2 separate regions of the Homo sapiens genome follow, and region 1 is linked to region 2. Evidence: fine-mapped expression QTL. A gene starts in region 2. The other region holds a variant in brackets. All regions are shown on one strand. Distances are between the middles of the regions.

Region 1 (8,338 bases), 89 kb before region 2:
CGCTTGCTCCTTTGGGCCCAGGGTGGTGACAGTTGAGGGTGTCTGTTCCCTTGGCCTTCAGTAAGTAGTTCTTTCAGAAAAGCCTGTCCCCTGAAGCTCCTGAGTGTGATTCTCCAGGGCTCTGGAGACCCAGCTTGCATACGGTGAAGTGGAACTGGCCACCCACTCAACATTTATAAAGTGAATATTGCAAAAATGATTGCTCCTGGTGTAATAGCAGATAATAAAGATTCCATTATTTTCTGCGAGAAGCTTAAATTTACACACATGAAGGGGATTAGGGTTGACAAAAACCATTTTTAAGGGATGTGATTCAGCATAACTACTTAAATTTCTATACACAATTTTATTAATCTTAGGTATTGAATAGGTAGAACTTTGGACCAAGTATGTCTCTATAGTTCCCCGCAGAAGTCTGACCTAGTTTACTACCATCAGGTTAGAACGCTAAGGTTTATTTAAACAATCTTAAATAAGCAAACTAAAAACCTGGAACCAATTCTTTAACCTACACTTAATGTAGACTTCCACATTCTAATGAGACATTCTTACATGCAAATGCTTAATCTGGAGTCCTCCTGTGGGACACGCACACACACATGGAGAGAGAAAAATACAAAATTCTCCATTAGTGCAAGACCCTGGAGAACAAGGACCTGATTCATTCTCCCCTGTGGCCTCCAGCATTCTCAGGAGGGGCTTCCCACACAGCAGAGACTGAATCAATTGTTCAGTGACAAGATGGGAGACAGCACACCATGGCGGACACAAGCACAAAGGTTGCCTAGGTTTGTACCCCAGCTATGCCACCTGCTGGATGAACTTGGGCAAATAATTAATCTCTCTGTGCCTCAGTCTCCTCACCTATGGCAGGGGGTTATTAGTATCATCCTAGTTTCAATGAGTTATTTGAAAAGCACTTAGACTGGTGCCTGTCCCATAGTAAGGACAAGATAAGAGCATGTTGAATAAATAAAGGGATGGTATTTTTCACATCACCTGGAGCCACTGTAGCTGGAAGGGCCTTTAAGAGAGATATAATTTTTTCATTTTATTTTATTTATTTAAATATTTATTTATTTATTTATTTTTGAGATGGAGTTTCACTCTTGTTGCCCAGGCTGGAGTGCAATGGCATGATCTTGGCTCACTGCAACCTTCGCCGCCCAGGTTCAAGCAATTCTTCTGCCTCAGCCTCCTGAATAGCTGGGATTATAGGCACGCACCACCATGCCTGGCTAATTTCTGTATTTTTTTTTTTTTTTTTTTTTTAGTATAGGCAGGGTTTCACCACATTGGCCAGGCTGGTCTTGAACTCCTGACCTCAGGCGATCCACCGCCTCAGCCTCCCAAAGTGCTGCGATTACAGGCACGAGCCACCATAGCCAGCCAATTTTCTCATTTTAGAGATAAGACTGAGGCCTAGAAAAGGTGAATTCAGTAAGCCGCTGCGAAAGGTGTGATCAGCTCACTCCTAGGAAGATCTGCTTGTTGATACACATATTTTATAAATCAATGGGAATAATTTTATCCGACAAAACAAAAATCCCTGCCCCTGACCCTAGGGAATGAAAAAACATGGGCTTCCACCCCTATTCTGGGAAAGGTTTAGTCATAAGTGGATTAACTTTTGTTCCACAAGAAACGACTTTTTGACTTTATTATTACTATCCAACACAACTGTCAAGACCTATGAAGGCAAGCTGAAAAGTCAGCCGGCCACAGTTCCCGGAATGCTGACAGAAGGCACAGAGGCATGGCTCCAAGACAAAGAACTACGCTACTCACAGCGTTAGCAGGAGCCAGAGTATCATTTCCTGTGCCAGTTCCTCAAGCACAGGGAAGATAAGAAGGGCAAGTGACAAGGGCAAAGGCAGTGAGCTGCAGAACAAAACAGGAGCCCTGAGCTCCATCTCTCAGTCTTTCATCACGGTCAGCCTGCCTGCGCTTTGCTCTAAAGAGAGACACTAACTCCATCTTCCAAGGATGTAAACAAACCTGTCCCTTGCTCCAGAAGGAGACGCTATGTGTATCTCCCAAGGTTGTGTGCCATACAAATATCCTGGAAAAGACGGCCTAGAAAAAGCACTGTCATTTTCTCTGCTTGCAAGATGTGCAAGAACTATGGAGGATTATCTCCCAACCATTTCTACCTTTCGCTTCTACATCATTAAGTTTTTGGCAAATTTTTCCATGCATACGCCGATCCGTCAGCCACTATGATTAATCTGTCTGACAGAGGCTGGGGCCCAATCTGTTCCATGGCACATTTAATTAAAACTACCACCAACACACTGCAAGCAGTAGGATAAGGCCAACTTCAACCATGCCCCAGTGGCCTGGACTCAGCCACTTAACTCTCACAAACAATGAGTCTACCTTCAAAAATCAGATGGACCTGAACTTCCTCTCCCTGAAGCAGACCAACGTAGGATGAAAGTAATCATCACCAAGGACAGTCAGCTAATCAGCACCAAAGCCGCATCAGTCAGCATCTGAGAAACAGCTTATTCACGGGACCAGGATACTTAAGTGACACCAACTAAGATTCACTCTCATCAGCAGATTTCCCTTTGGCTAGATTACCTTTTTATCACCTCCCAACATTTTTTTGTTTTGTTTTGAGATGGAGTCTTGCTCTGTCACTCATGCTGGAGTACAGTGGTGTGATCTTGGCTCACTGCAACGTCCACCTCCTGAGTTCAAGAGATTCTCCTGCCTTAGCCTCCCGAGTAGCTGGGATTACAGGTGTGCACCACTGCACCCGGCTAATTTTTGTATTTTTAGTAGTGTCGGGGTTTCACCATGTTGGCCAAGCTGGTCTTGAACTCCTGGCCTCAGGTGATCCTCCCGCTTCGGCCTGCCAAACTGCTGGGATTCCAGGCGTGAGCCACCATGCCCAGCCTTCCTCCCAACTATTTTAGGTTTGGGAGTACATATGCAGTTTTGTTACATGAGTAAATTGTGTCAGGGGTTTGGTGTACATTATTTCATCACCTGGGTGGTGAGCACAGTATCTAATGGGTAGTTTTTCGGTCCTCACCCTCCTCCCATCCTGCACCGTCCTTTTGCTGGATTTCCATAGTTCTCCATGTGCCCCAACCCTTCCGGGCCACGTGTTTTCTATTGCTGCATAACAAATTACTACACATTTAGTGGCTTAAAACCACCTACACTGATTATCTCACAGTTTCTGTGGGCCAGGAATCTGGACAGGGCTTAGCTGAGTCCTCTTCAAGGCTGCGATCAAAGTGTTGGCCAGGGCTGGGTTCTCCTCTGGAGGCTCGTCTTGGGAAGGGTCTGCTTCCAAGCTCAGCCTGCCGGCAAAAGCATGACGTAATGTCAGCAAGGAGTGATGGCCCATCGCATTTGCCATAGTCTATTGGTTTTCAGCAAGACACATGTCCTGCCCATACTCAAAGAAAGGGAATTAAATAAGGGTCTGAACGTCACAAGGAAGGGCTCATGGGGAC[A/C]CACTCCAGAGTCTGTCTGCCACAGACACATTCTTTAGAATCATGACCAGGTCCTAGAAGCCACAGTCCAGTACTGTCCAGGAGAAACAGAACATCAACCATGTGTGGAATGTTAAATTTTCTAGCACCCATATTAAAAAACAGTGAAAAATACATACACTACCATACTATTCTATGGATGCAATGGTTACCATGAAATATAGTCCCACCAAAACAGCTTATGAAATAGCTTACACTGCTGGTTTTTAAGTTTAAATTAATTCAAATGAAATCAGATTTAAAATTCAGTCCCTCAATTGCACCAGCCCATTCCAAGTGCTCAACAGTCCAAATGAACAGTGAGGTCTTAGATCCACCCTCTCTTTAAAGCAGGAGGCAATGCTTCAAATATCCCCTGGGTCAGGCAAAAGAGTGGTGACAAGATGATCTCCTTGACCTCCTAAACCTCTTCTCAGGCTTCGATCTTGGCCACCGTCCTTGCCAGGCCTGCACAGCCCAGTTTTAGCAAGAATCCTGCTAGGTCAGTTTAGAGAGAAGCCCTCCTGCCTTGAGATCTCATCAAATCCCTCGTCCTCCACCCTGGCTATCTGATCACCCTGGCCTGCTCTTAGCAAGAATCCTCTCTATCCCCGAGGTCTCCTCTTAGTGATTTTCCAACCATGAACTACTCCCCTCCACCCTTGGCTGTAAGTCCCCATCTGTCTTTACTGTATTCCACTGAGCCCAGTTCTGGACGCAAGTCTCTTTTCCCTATTGCAATAGTTTCTGTATAAAATCTCTCAGGCCGGGCGTAGTGGCCCACGCCTGTAATCCCAACACTTTGGGAGGCTGAGGCAGGCGGATCACCTGAGGTTGGGAGTTTGAGGCCAGCCTGTCGAACATGGAGAAACCCCACCTCTAGTAAAAATACAAAATTAGCTGGACGTGGTGGCACATGCCTGTAATCCCAGCTACTCAGGAGGCTCAGGCAGGAGAATCGCTTGAACCCGGGAGGCAGAAGTTGCAGTGAGCCGAGATGGTGCCATTGCACTCCAGCCTGGGCAACAAGAGCGAAACTCCATCTCAAAAAAATAATAATAAATGTCTCTTTACTGCTTCAATAAGAGTCCATCTCTGATTCTCCCCAACAGTTGGGAGGGCTCAGTAGCAAACTGGAGACAGCATGGATAGTTGTGGGAACACAGGCCTCACGTTGTTAGATCTGGGATTTTTCTTTTCTTTTCTTTTCTTTTTTTTGAGACAGTCTCACTCTGTCGCCCAGGCTGGAGTGCAGTGGCGCTATCTCGGCTCACTGCAAGCTCCGCCCCCCGGGTTCATGCCATTCTCCTGCCTCAGCCTCCCGAGTAGCTGTGACTACAGGTGCCAGTCACCATGCCCGGCTAATTTTTTGTAGTTTTAGTAGAGAGGGGGTTTCACCGTGTTTGCCAGGATGGTCTCGATCTCCTGACCTCGTGATCTGCCCACCTAGGCCTCCTAAAGTGCTGGGATTACAGGCGTGAGCCACCGCGCCCGGCCTAGATCTGGGATTTTTCAAGGAGCCAAAAGTCTGTATTTTTGGTGGGAAATCACGTAGACATAAAATATCATCTATTCAAAAAACATTTTTTAACTCTCTGCAGGCCAAATAAAACATGTCAGACTGATCTGGCTAAGCCAGCAGAGTTTAACCTCAGCTTTAAGGTACCCATCTCCTACTTTGGTTCCTTCTCTACTATTTTGTCAATTTGAATCACACAGAGTGATCTTATTTCCTGAAAGTTTTGGGGAGCTACAGCACTGCAGTCTTTAAGAAATGACCACACACAGGGAGAATCCCCCAGGACCAAGGCCTCTCCTGGGCAGTGGGCGTTCCTCTTCCCCAGCCTGCCCCATGCCATCCCACCTATCCTTGCTTCCTATTTCACTCAAGGGACAGTTTGACAGGGAAGCAGGAAAGCAGAAGATCTCTTTTCTCATCAGGATCTTTCCCAACTCATAAATGTCCAGAAGAAAACAGAATATATTTTCCTGATTAGTTATACTCATTCTTTTCTATATTTGCATCTTCCCCCAGTTAAGAATGAAAAGCAAGACAGGGCAAACGTTTACCTAGTTTACCTTGGTGCTTCCTACAGCAGAATTAAGATAAAACATGCCATAAAACTGATGGAATCATAAGGAAATGGAAATCATAATGAAATGAACGTTGACTTTGAAACCCTGGGAGAGCATTACAATGAAAAGATTGTTTAATGAGGCATTTAGAGGCGAGGAAAATGACCACCTTCCTTTCCCCTGTCCCCCTCCCCACCAAGGGCCCTGCTCCAGTAACTGGTTGCTCAGCTGCCTCTAAGGATGGGTGTTGGGCTTCGGATTCCTCAGGTGGATATACAAGGTGTAGCCTCTCAGAAAAAAAAAAAAAAAAAAACAAATTTAAGGATTATCATGATAAACAGGTATCAAATCAGCCTGCCTAGGGCCTCTATCCGTTACAGTTCAGCCTTCAATCCACTGGAAAACCACAAAGAGTTGCTTCAGGGAGAGAACAGGAGGAGCTGAGAAATTGTCTTTAGTCTTTCCATGGATCAGGTAAAGCTGTCAAAGTGGAAAGAAGGCAGGTAGATTTATCTCTGGGACTCCCAAAAAAGGATGACAGCATACTGGCCTAGACGAGGTATTCTGAGGGTAGCGATGAGAAGCCCCACCGCTTCTGGGGAGGTGGAGGAGCCTCAGAACCCACGGATGGCTACCAGGAGATGTGCCCCTGGCAGTCTCCCTTGGACTTGGTGTGCCTTCCTACAAAGCACTCACGGGGTATGAGCCAGACATACCAGTAACACTACGCTACATTCTGGTTATATCATAGATTAAATGGGGTTTGGACCCCAGCCCGGCATCCCAGTCACCAAATTCAGCATTGTTCTAAAATGTTTCCTAGAACTTACTATGTTACAAATGAGCTTGTGGAACACGTAAATGAGGGAAGACTTGTGCAAAAGATCTTCTAACATAGTGTAACAATTAAATTTTAACACTAGAGTGGGCTCATTGCTGTTTCCTTATTGTTCATTTTTCAGTAAGTTTACATGTTGATATCAAAATGAACTTGTAAAAAGTCCTGGATTCAAGTTTTCTGATTTCTAAAGGTACTTAAATATTTAAATAAATGCCTGACATATTTAGTGCTATGAAATGTAAAACTTAAGAAGGCAGTTAGTGTATCTTAAAAATAGTGTAAACACTTAAGCAAATGAAGACCAAACCATCAACAGTTAATAAACAAAAATAAATTAAGGACATAATGGCTGTGACCACTTATCTCAAAAAGTGATGTTTATCCTTAATTTTCTTTTCTTTCCCTGTTTTTTTGGGAGAGGCAGGATTGTAGGGCATATAATTTCTCACAGGCTTTATGTGTTTTGTGTTTTCTTACCGGGTTTACAGGGCATTTAATTTCCCACAGATTTTAAGCATTTTAAGCAAAACACATAAAATAATTATTTGAATCTAAATGTGTTTACATGTTCAGTGGGGATCATTTCTGATCTGGTAAGGGGGAAGAAAGAGTTTTGTACCTTAGAGGTTGTCCACAATTCTTATTCATTTAGAAGTACAAAGAGTATTTTTCTGGGTAGAAATAAATGGTAAATAGCCACTCATTCTCCACCACAAAGTGTCTTTTAAAGTCAATATTGATATCACATTTGTTTGGAAAACACAAACTTGTTCCAGGAAATTAATAATGAATATGAGCAGAACTACAAGGAATATGAGCAGAACGCAAATTTCACAATTTGCTTACGCATGGTCTCATCCAGGAGCAACGCTAGGTGAAATGTGGAAAACCACACCCAGCATCGGAACACACAGAACACGAGTGAGCAGCCTCCGTTCACTGCAAGTACTGAGTCACACTTACCCAGTCCTGGGATTAGAACTCACCCTCTGATTCCAGCTGACTCTCCTTCCACAGCTTCACCTTAATTCATGAGCTGCAACCCTTCCTATGCCCACTTCTACAGGCACACTTCAGGTCTTTTCCAAGGTAAAGTGCCATATTTATTAACCATTTAACATGTGTCAAACTGTGCTGCTCTTATTAGATTCTTATCTTTATTCTTGGGTATGTCACTGTTGAAGTTTTGGGTTGCTGAGCCTCTAACCCAGTTTTCCCCATATATCCTAAGGCCTCTTTATTGTACAATTTTGCCGAGCATTCTGGTTTTTAGAAGGCAACTGTGCATTAACAGCAGGATTCACTGCATTCTATTGTGAGCATCATTTCATCAAAATTATAGCAATTCAAGTCCAACATCCAAGAGGTATCTGCTGGAAACCACCCCTAATGTTCAGAATTCTCTTATTTTAAGCATTCTGTATAGCATTTTACATTTCTCAAATGACAGCTCTTGGAATAAACATCGAGAAACAAATGAATTATAAACAGCATTTGATTAATAAGCCATGAATATTTAGAAATGTCATTTTCAAAAGACATTAAACAGTAATTCAGATCATGCTACTCAGTTTTAATTTAGTGATGTTTACCACTTGGTCAAAAACAAGCACTAGCACTTCAAAGTTTTAATCTCAAAATATTTCCTTGCGACAAAACTACTAAGACATATTACCTAAACACCGCTCCTTTAGCTTTTAATACCACTATCTTCGTTTAAACTTTGAAGAAAATCCCGAGACCATTTTAAATTACTACGTACATAAAACAAACATTTAGCATAAACCAGGCACTTATTCAATGTTAAATTTTCCCCACTGCAAGCATAAACAAAATCATGTTTCAACAAATATGCTCTGACAAATAAAAATCTGAAGGCTTTTTCTTGCCTTTAAAATATACAACTCAGCACAGTTAAATATCTACAAAT
Region 2 (8,338 bases):
ATATTCCATATTAAAGATAAGGAAACTGAGACACAGATTATCTAAGCAACTAGGCCAAAAATCACACTACCGGTAAGCAGCAAACCTGGGACTGAATCCAAGCAGTGTGGCCCCAGTCTGAATTCTTAACACTAAGCTAAATTGCTTCCTAATACTCTAAGGGAAAAAAAAAAGTGGAAGGAGAGAAGAGGCTCCGGAACTGAGCCGCAGGGCACTCAACTTTTAGAAGTTGCAAAAAGGGGAAGCAAAAAAATTTAAAAGGAGCTAAGTAGAAAATGAGAAAAAGTTTGGTGTCCTGAAATCCCATGAATAAAATACTGTATATCAAAGAGGAATGCTTAAGAGATCAAAAAAGAAATGGACTAGAAAGTGACCATTGGATTTGGCAAGGTGGAAGTCACTAGAGACTTTGAAATACAAACTTGATGAAATAAGTTATCTTTACGTTTCTTCTAAATTCAGCTCTTGAATTATAATGTCCAAAATGAGATTCATTTATTCCATAAATGTTTACTGAAAGTTCTTCAGCATGCCAAAAACTGGTCTACAGCTAGGGATACGGCAGTGAAAAAATCAAACAAAAATCCCTGTCCTCACAGAGCTCACATTCTAGTAACATCTTTCGGTGTTTCTTCCAAGGGAAAAGCTATCACCAGCATTGTGTCTCTTTATAAAAAATGTTATATTATATAAATCAGTCAGTGAATTTCTGATTCAGCCTCAGATTAAGACTGAAGACAATTAATTTTGAAGATGTGCAAATGTATACGAGTGTTAAGTGATAAATAACTGTATCAAATGAGTTACTTTAATGTTATGACATATTCATTGGTAGATATGGTGAAAGAAAAAATTGTTAAGTGTATTCTATACACTGTATTCTATATGTTATACTATTAAAAAATAATATGAGTCTACTGGACTCTGTGCAAGGCTTATGTACTGGGAATCTCTGAGGGGTCTTCTTAGATAAACCTTTTGTAATATTTCAATACAAGGATTGTGAGAAGAGAATTGGTCCAATACCAAAACCTGAGCAACTTTAAAAAGTAAGCTTTTCTGGAGCAAAACAATGTTGCTACACTGAAGAAGTATAATGTCTGGCAGGCTCAACTGACACATTCTCAACTCAACAAACATTATTAAACACCTCCTATGTAGCAACCTCTCATTAAGGAGTATAAAACTATCTTGAATGCTAAATAATTCGGTAAAGGCAAAAATGCTAAAATAAGTTAGAGGATTTTGTAAGAAGGTGGAAATTAGAGTGGACTAGTGCAGCGGTTCTCAACTGGGAGGTATTTTGTCCTTCCAGGGGGCATTTAGCAATGTCCTGAGACTTCTAAAATCATGAGTGGGGGCTGGGTGTCACCGGCATCTAGTGGATAAAGGCCAGGGATAAGGCTGAACACCCTACATTGCACAGGACAAACTCCTATGACAAAGATATTTACCTGGCCCAAACCGTCAATAACGTTGCTACTGAGAAACCCTTTGCTACAGTAATCAGGAAATGACTCAGGTGTAACAAGTTGGATTCTGAGTTGGCCTTAACACACAAGGATATGTTGAAAGATAAAAGAAAGCATAAGCGTAGGACAAAAGCATAAAGGCAAGAAGGTGCCTGTGTTTGAACTGGGTGGTACAGCTACTAGGAACGGGTTTGACATTAAGAAATTTACCTGAATCCAATGCAAATATGTGTTCACAAAGTCAGTAGAATATAAAGGTGATTGGGTAGTTGCTAGCTAAATTATACAGGACCAAGAAAACTAGACAAAGGTGCTGTAAACAGAAGAAGCAAGTATTAAGAAGCTGTTTTAAGTATTTCCCCTAGAGATTCATGTAGTGAGATGTAAAACTGCTTGAGAACAGCAACTAGGCCTTGCTCATCACTGTATCTCTTATGTCACTGAGCTGCTGTGTCCTGTAGTGTGTGCTAACTGCTTATTAAATTAAATGCAATTTTCCAATTCATTAAGTATAATCGGTGATCTCCAAGGTTCTGTCCACTGCTAAGATTCAGGACACTCATTTAAGGTGGAACAAAAAAGGTAGCATCTAGTAAGTGCCAACCACATAAAGGTACTGTAGCAGGCCCTCTAGACATATTATTTAACTGCAGAATGGAATGATGTGTTTTCCCCTCTTTAAAGACAAGAACACTGGAACTCAAAGAATTTAACTTGCCTATGATTTCACCGTGAGCTGAGAAGTGGCAGAGGTAAGGAGTGAACTTTTTTCTACTCTTATATAAACTTCCAAGTTTCAGTGACATGCTCTAAGGAAGAGTTTAAAAAGAAAAATTCAACATCCACCTTTCATAATTAAAATACACAAAGACAAGTAAATTCATAAGGTTGTCCTTATTCACAGTAATGATTACATTCTGCCATAAGGGATTTGGAAATGGTATTTGGCTTGCTTTCATTCCACACTTGTGTGCCAAGGTAGTTCCTACGTGCGTTCAAATTAAACCAAAATTCTCTCCCCGGAAACTCAAATTCCCATAATTATTATCTTCAAGTCAGAAAAAAATAAAATAAAATAAAATTAAAAACCAAAAGCAAACCTATTGAATTGACATCATCAGTACCTAATACCAGTGATTCAGAAAACAACAAAAATGTAGCATTTCAAACTCTTTCCAGATTCAACAACTTCTTCCACACTTCTTTACACCTTTTAAAGTGCAGAGACCTAGCCTAAGAGAGACATCCCAAAGGCTCAGGTCCTCAATTCGGTTTCAGTCGTTGCCAAGTATTTCATCTTCATCGCTCCTAACATGTTTGAGAGTCTACCCTTAACCAGAGCTCCCTCCTTCAGTTACCGTTACAAAAGATTTTAAAATCCTCTAAGGAACCTTACCTAAAACATTCTGCCAGTTCCAGACGCTCAACATTTATTTGTCTAGGCAAGCACTTTTGGTACAGGGTTTACAATCCTAATCTAGCCAACATACGCCTTAAGCCCTTCGCTGTTCTTCCAGAAGCACAGTCCCTGCACCAGATGCTACACCAGCTGCTCCTCCCAGGCCCTTTACACCAACCCATTCAGCAGTTCTTTGGCAACCTACAGTCCTAGCTCAAGGCCCATTTCACAGGATGAGTCCCATTTCTTTCAAAGAGGATGCGCCAAGCCCTCAACCTCCTCCCAGCTCTGAAGGAGGGAGCCTCAGGAAAGGGGAAGAGCGAGCTCTTCCTTGGCCCTGGCCCGAGGGTCCTGAATGCAGGCAGGGGCTGGCAGAGTGAGCGTGCAGTCCGGTGAGGAATGGGCAGGGAGAGGCAAAAACACTTACCAACATCCTGATCGAAGGGATTGGTGGCAAAAAGAGGCATCTCCGCTGCGTGCCGAGGTGTCCCCGGGGACTCCCTCTCGACAGCACGGGAGTCAGAGCTCGACGTAGGATGGAAGACTCCTCAGGCAAAAAGAGCAACAGAGACCGACTCTACAGGGTCCGCGACAGCTCCTCCTCTCACCCAACCCCACCAACCGCGGCAGCAGCTGCGGCGGCGGCAACAGCAAGGAGCCGAGGAAGCCCCCGCGCGGAGCTTGTCGGGAATCTGGGCGACCTTGGCGCTGCCTGTCTCAAAGCTGCCCCGAGCCTGCCCCATCGGTAAAGGCTGAACAGGGAGTCCCCTCTGCCTGACTCCTCTTTTAATTAGTCACACATAAGAGTGGAATTAGTTCTTGTGTTTTCTGCTTTTCCCTTGGCTAGGAGTCTCCGTAGGACGGGGTCCTTCAGGCGTGCTGAAGCCTACTAACAACCCCAGGAGTGACTGGGAGAGCCAGGAGAAAGAAAGCAGGTTGAGTTCGGGTCGAGCTGTGCGCCTTTTTTCCTCTCGCTCTCTCGGTTATCATAACCTTGTATTCCCTCTGGAAGGAAATGGAAATTCCTTTGGATCATCTTCTAGGTAAACAGTTTAATTAGCTGCGTGAGGTGACAAACTTGCTCGGATGAAGTCATGGGAGCTGAACGAATTGGCCTGAATCCCAAGAGGGGAGTGTTCAGGGCGCGCGTGTCCCTCGGAGAGGCTGAGGTAACGCTGGCTCCTTCCCGGGAGTCCCTGAACGCCCGGCTTTGGAATCTGCAGACAGCTCTTCTAGCAGGGCGTTGGCACCTACTGACTAACCGTGCAATCACTCAGCAGCTGTGATGGTTGGTGACATGTCTTTCACAGCCCAAGATAGCCTCCCTAGACTGAGCAAAAAAAAGAAAACAGAAAAAAACTGGAGCTAAAAGTTGATCAGTGAGTGATTCCTAGCAACCCAAAATGTTGGTTTATTTATTTTACTTATAAGTTTAGTTAACCAATAAAAATTATTCTCTGTGTGATGGAGAAGTTTTAAGGAGCATCTACTAGAGATGTTGCGTCCCACTTGGAACAAACTTAGTAAGCACATCTTGTACGTAAATGGAAATTATCCCGCAAATTACGGCATCTCCAAATGTAGCGTGGAAACTAATATTGACATGTCAACACAGGATTAATACATAGTAATCAAAGAGTGCTTAAAAATTCATTAAAAATGAAGTCCCACCTCTAAAAGTGAAATGTGCAAATTAAAGTAGCAGTTAGATAATGTTTTGTCATTTAGGTAAAAATTACAAAGAATCGGCCGGGCGCGGTGGCTCACGCCTGTAATCCCAGCACTCTGGGAGGCCGAGGCCGGCAGATCACCTGAGGTCAGGAGTTCAAGACCAGCCTGGCCATGGTGAAACCCCGTCTCTACTAAAAGTACAAAAAATTAGCCGGGCGTGGTGGTGCGCGCTTGTAATCCCAGCTATTCGGGAGGCTGAGGCTGGGAATCGTTTGAACCCGGGAGCGAAACTCCGTCTCAAAAAAAGAAAAAAATTGCAAAGAATCAGGGATGTGAGGAGTCAGACACTCACATACTGTTGGATGAAGTGTAAATACTGTATAATCTTCCTAAGGGAAATATTTGGAAGCATGTAAAAAAATTTTTAAAACCTTAGGACCCAGCAATTCCATTTCGGCAAATTAATCCTAAAGACATTCTTTTAAAACATGAACAAAGGTATACATGGCAACATTGTCTAAAGGATCAAAGCATTGCCAGCCATTAAATGTCCCACATTGAGTGATTGGACAAATTGCTTCACCTCTTGGTGTCTCAGTTTCCTCATGTGTAAGAAACAGGAATAATAGGGTTGTGAGGATCAAATGAATTAGTACAAGCAAAACGCTTATTACAGTGCCTGGCATAGAGTAAGCACTAAATAAGTGTAACTGATCACTGTAATTTACACTGGTCAGTTAAATCATAGTACATAAGATGTGAAAACTACACAGCCATTTAAGGTGCATAATACAGATTCATATTTACATAGACATCTGAATACACAAGTTTTCAGAAGGAAGTTACAAACCTTATAAAATTACAAATGCCCACAATTTTAAAAATCTGAAAGGAAATACATGAGAATATTATGACATGATTGTCTCTGAGTGGCAAGATTCTAGACAATGTTTTTGTTCTTTGTGCATTTTATTATTCAAAATATTTTAATGATGAGCGTGTATTCCTTTCAAAAGCAGAAAAAATGTTAAAATACAACAATGTCAAAAATGGTATGTTGGTACCACCAGTTTCTTAATGTTTTGAAGGGCCAATACCAAAAGCGTGCTTGTGTTTCATTATGACAAGTATAGAATTATTCGGAAATATCACGACTGATACGGAAGTCAGAACATTCCCTCTCAAAAATGTGCTTTGATTGCTGGGCTGACAGAATTAGGTGACAACTTGTTTACCTTAAGATCCTGAGCAGTGTCTTGGGCCATTATCATAAGTGCCTGAGCCAGATATTGGTGGCTCAGACTGGGTGTATCAGAGCCAGATATTGATGAAAATGCATTTGTACATGTTCTGTACTCCGGACTGAATTACTCTGTTGCCAGCAATAAGCCAGGGCACAAACTGTTCAAGCCTTGATTATCAATATGTGTGCACTGGGAGTAATACATACTAGTATTGAGAGCAGTATCCGTGCATTCTGACCTAGAATGACTTTAGCTGTGGGGGCAGGGGGGTCTCGATGATTAATGTGCTGTATAAATAATAAACATTTTTTAAATATAAAATTTTTAATATTTAACTTAAAAGACAAACATAAAAAGTGAAATGCTTTGTATTTTGTGGTTAACGTCCCTTATTATCCCTTTAAAATACTGAAATTCTATGAGTTTCACTTTTAGTATTACCACAGTTTTTAAAACGTTTTGAAGACTACATATCAATGGCATATTAAAATGTTTCTGTAATGTTGTATGTTTAATAAATTCTGTGGTTGTTTGTTAAATGTTATATCCCTTTATTCTCAGTTTGATTTTGAAAATTCATCTACATTAAAAACAAAAATACTGGCCAAGTGTGGTGGCTCATGCCTGTAATCCTAGCACTTTGGGAGGCTGAGGCAGGTGGATCATCTGAGGTCAGGAGTTTGAGACCAGCCTGGCCAACATGGCGAAACTCGGTCTCTACCAAAAATACAAAAACTTAGCTGGGCGTGGTGGTGGGCAGCTGTAATCCCAGCTACTCAGGAGGATGAGGCAGGAGAATCGCTTGAACCTGGGGTATGGAGGTTGCAGTGAGCCGAGATCGGGCCACTTCACTCCAGCCTGGGCGACAGAGAGAGACTCTGTCTCAAAAAACAAAAAAAACAAACAAAAAAACAAAACAAAAAACAAAAAACTGGTGTGCAAATAGAGTTACTACACGAAAAAGTCTATAATTTTCAAATTCAGGAAAAAGAATATCCTAGGAAGGTTTTTAACAGTTTAATAATTCCAGCCCAAGTAGGAATGATTACTATTTCTCAGTCTTTCCTCTTCCTCTGCATTGTCACTACTTTAGTTTATACCCTCATCTCTTAGGCAAGTTACTACATTCACCTCCTGCTGTCTTTTCTCCTTTCCTACAGCTGTGGACTGAATTGTATCCTCAAAAATACAAATATTGAAGCCCTTATGCCCAATGTGATGGTATTTGGAGACAGAATCTTTGGGAGATAATTAGAGTTAGATGAGGTCATGAGGCTGCGGCCTTGCTAATGGGATTAGTGCCCTTATAAGAAGGACACTGGATTGCTTGCTGTCTCTCCCTCTCTCTGCCATGTGGGGATGTGGCGAGAAGGCAGCTGTCTGCAGGCCAGTAAGAGAGCCCTCGCCAGAACCCAACCATGCTGGTACCCTGATCTCAGACTTCCAACCTTTAGAACGGCAAGAAAATTAATTTCTGTTGTATAAGTCACTCACTCTGGTATTTTGTTATGGCAGCCTAAGCTAGCTAATACAGCTATTACCTCTAAACCATTCTCTGTCTTACCGCCAGAATGATTTTTCTAATACACAAATCTGATTATATATCATTTCCTTAAAATTCTTATAGGGTTTCTTCAGTTACTCAGTCATTCAGCAAATATGTATTAACTCCCACGTGTGCCAGGTAACATTTTAGATGCTGGAATTATAGGGATAAAAGCTCTGTGAGATTTAGCCTTTTTGGAGTACAGCCTTTGGGGAAGATAGTCATTAAATAAAAAATTAAATTAATTGTATGATTACAAGTGTGCAGAGTAGCCTTACCTTCAGGATTAAACCCCCCTTCTTTAGCATTACCTCCTTAATGAACTGACCTCTCAGTAACTCATCTCTTCGCAGTTTTTTTTCTCCTACCCTCTACGTTAGCCTTTCTGAACTACTAGCATTCGCCCCCATGCTTTTTGTATCTTCAAACAAGCAACTCTTTCTGCTTTTCCTGCTCTTACTCTATTTAGGTCCTAGATCTCCTCTAAACTTCCGCTTAGATTTTGCTTCTTAAAAGCCTTTCCTGACTCAGTACCTGACTAGTAATAGGCACATAATAAATATTTGTTAATCCATTTGTTAATTGACTACCTCTATTATATAGCACTTAATGGTATGGTATGTGTTACAGGTGTCTATTATACCTGAGCACGGTGTCTCACGTCTGTAATCCCAGCACTGTGGGAGGCCGAGGGGGGCAGATCACCTGAGGTCGGGAGTTCAAAACCAGCCTGACCAACATGGAGAAACCCTGTCTCTACTAAAAATACAAAATTAGCTGGGCATGGTGGCGCATACCTGTAATCTCAGCTACTCAGGAGGCTGAGGCAGGAGAATCGCTTGAACACGGGAGGTGGAGGTTGCAGTGAGCCGAGATCACACCATTGCCCTCCAGCCTGGGCAACAAGAGCGAAACTCCATCTCAAAAAAAAAAAAAAAAAAAATTAAGCACTGCAAATTGCAAATTTAGCATCTTAGGGCAACAACAATCATTTCTTCTGCTTACA

Direction of the effects. Alleles are on the strand shown, and positions count from the first base shown. SD is a standard deviation of normalised expression in the study named.
With allele C in place of A in region 1, the expression in atrial appendage of the gene that starts at base 3,527 in region 2 is lower (moderate effect, 0.42 SD a copy in GTEx).

The links.
Region 1: its variant is fine-mapped to the expression of STAM in atrial appendage (GTEx, PIP above 0.99). The same link has a PIP of 0.9 or more in left ventricle.

Annotation. Positions count from the first base shown.
Region 1 is chr10:17,728,814-17,737,151 of GRCh38, reverse strand. No RefSeq gene overlaps it. Among named protein-coding and RNA genes, the nearest start is that of TMEM236, 19 kb to the left of the region's middle. RefSeq lists a silencer at 2,365-2,565. The variant A/C (reference allele first, on the strand shown) is at 3,474.
Region 2 is chr10:17,639,340-17,647,677 of GRCh38, reverse strand. It overlaps STAM (signal transducing adaptor molecule), which reads right to left and starts at 3,527. Exons shown (of 14, transcript NM_003473.4): 1 at 3,299-3,527. The coding sequence starts at 3,338. It overlaps STAM-DT (STAM divergent transcript), which reads left to right and starts at 3,760. Exons shown (of 1, transcript NR_110370.1): 1 at 3,760-6,394. RefSeq lists enhancers at 3,513-3,632, 3,783-3,852, 3,275-3,924, 3,925-4,573.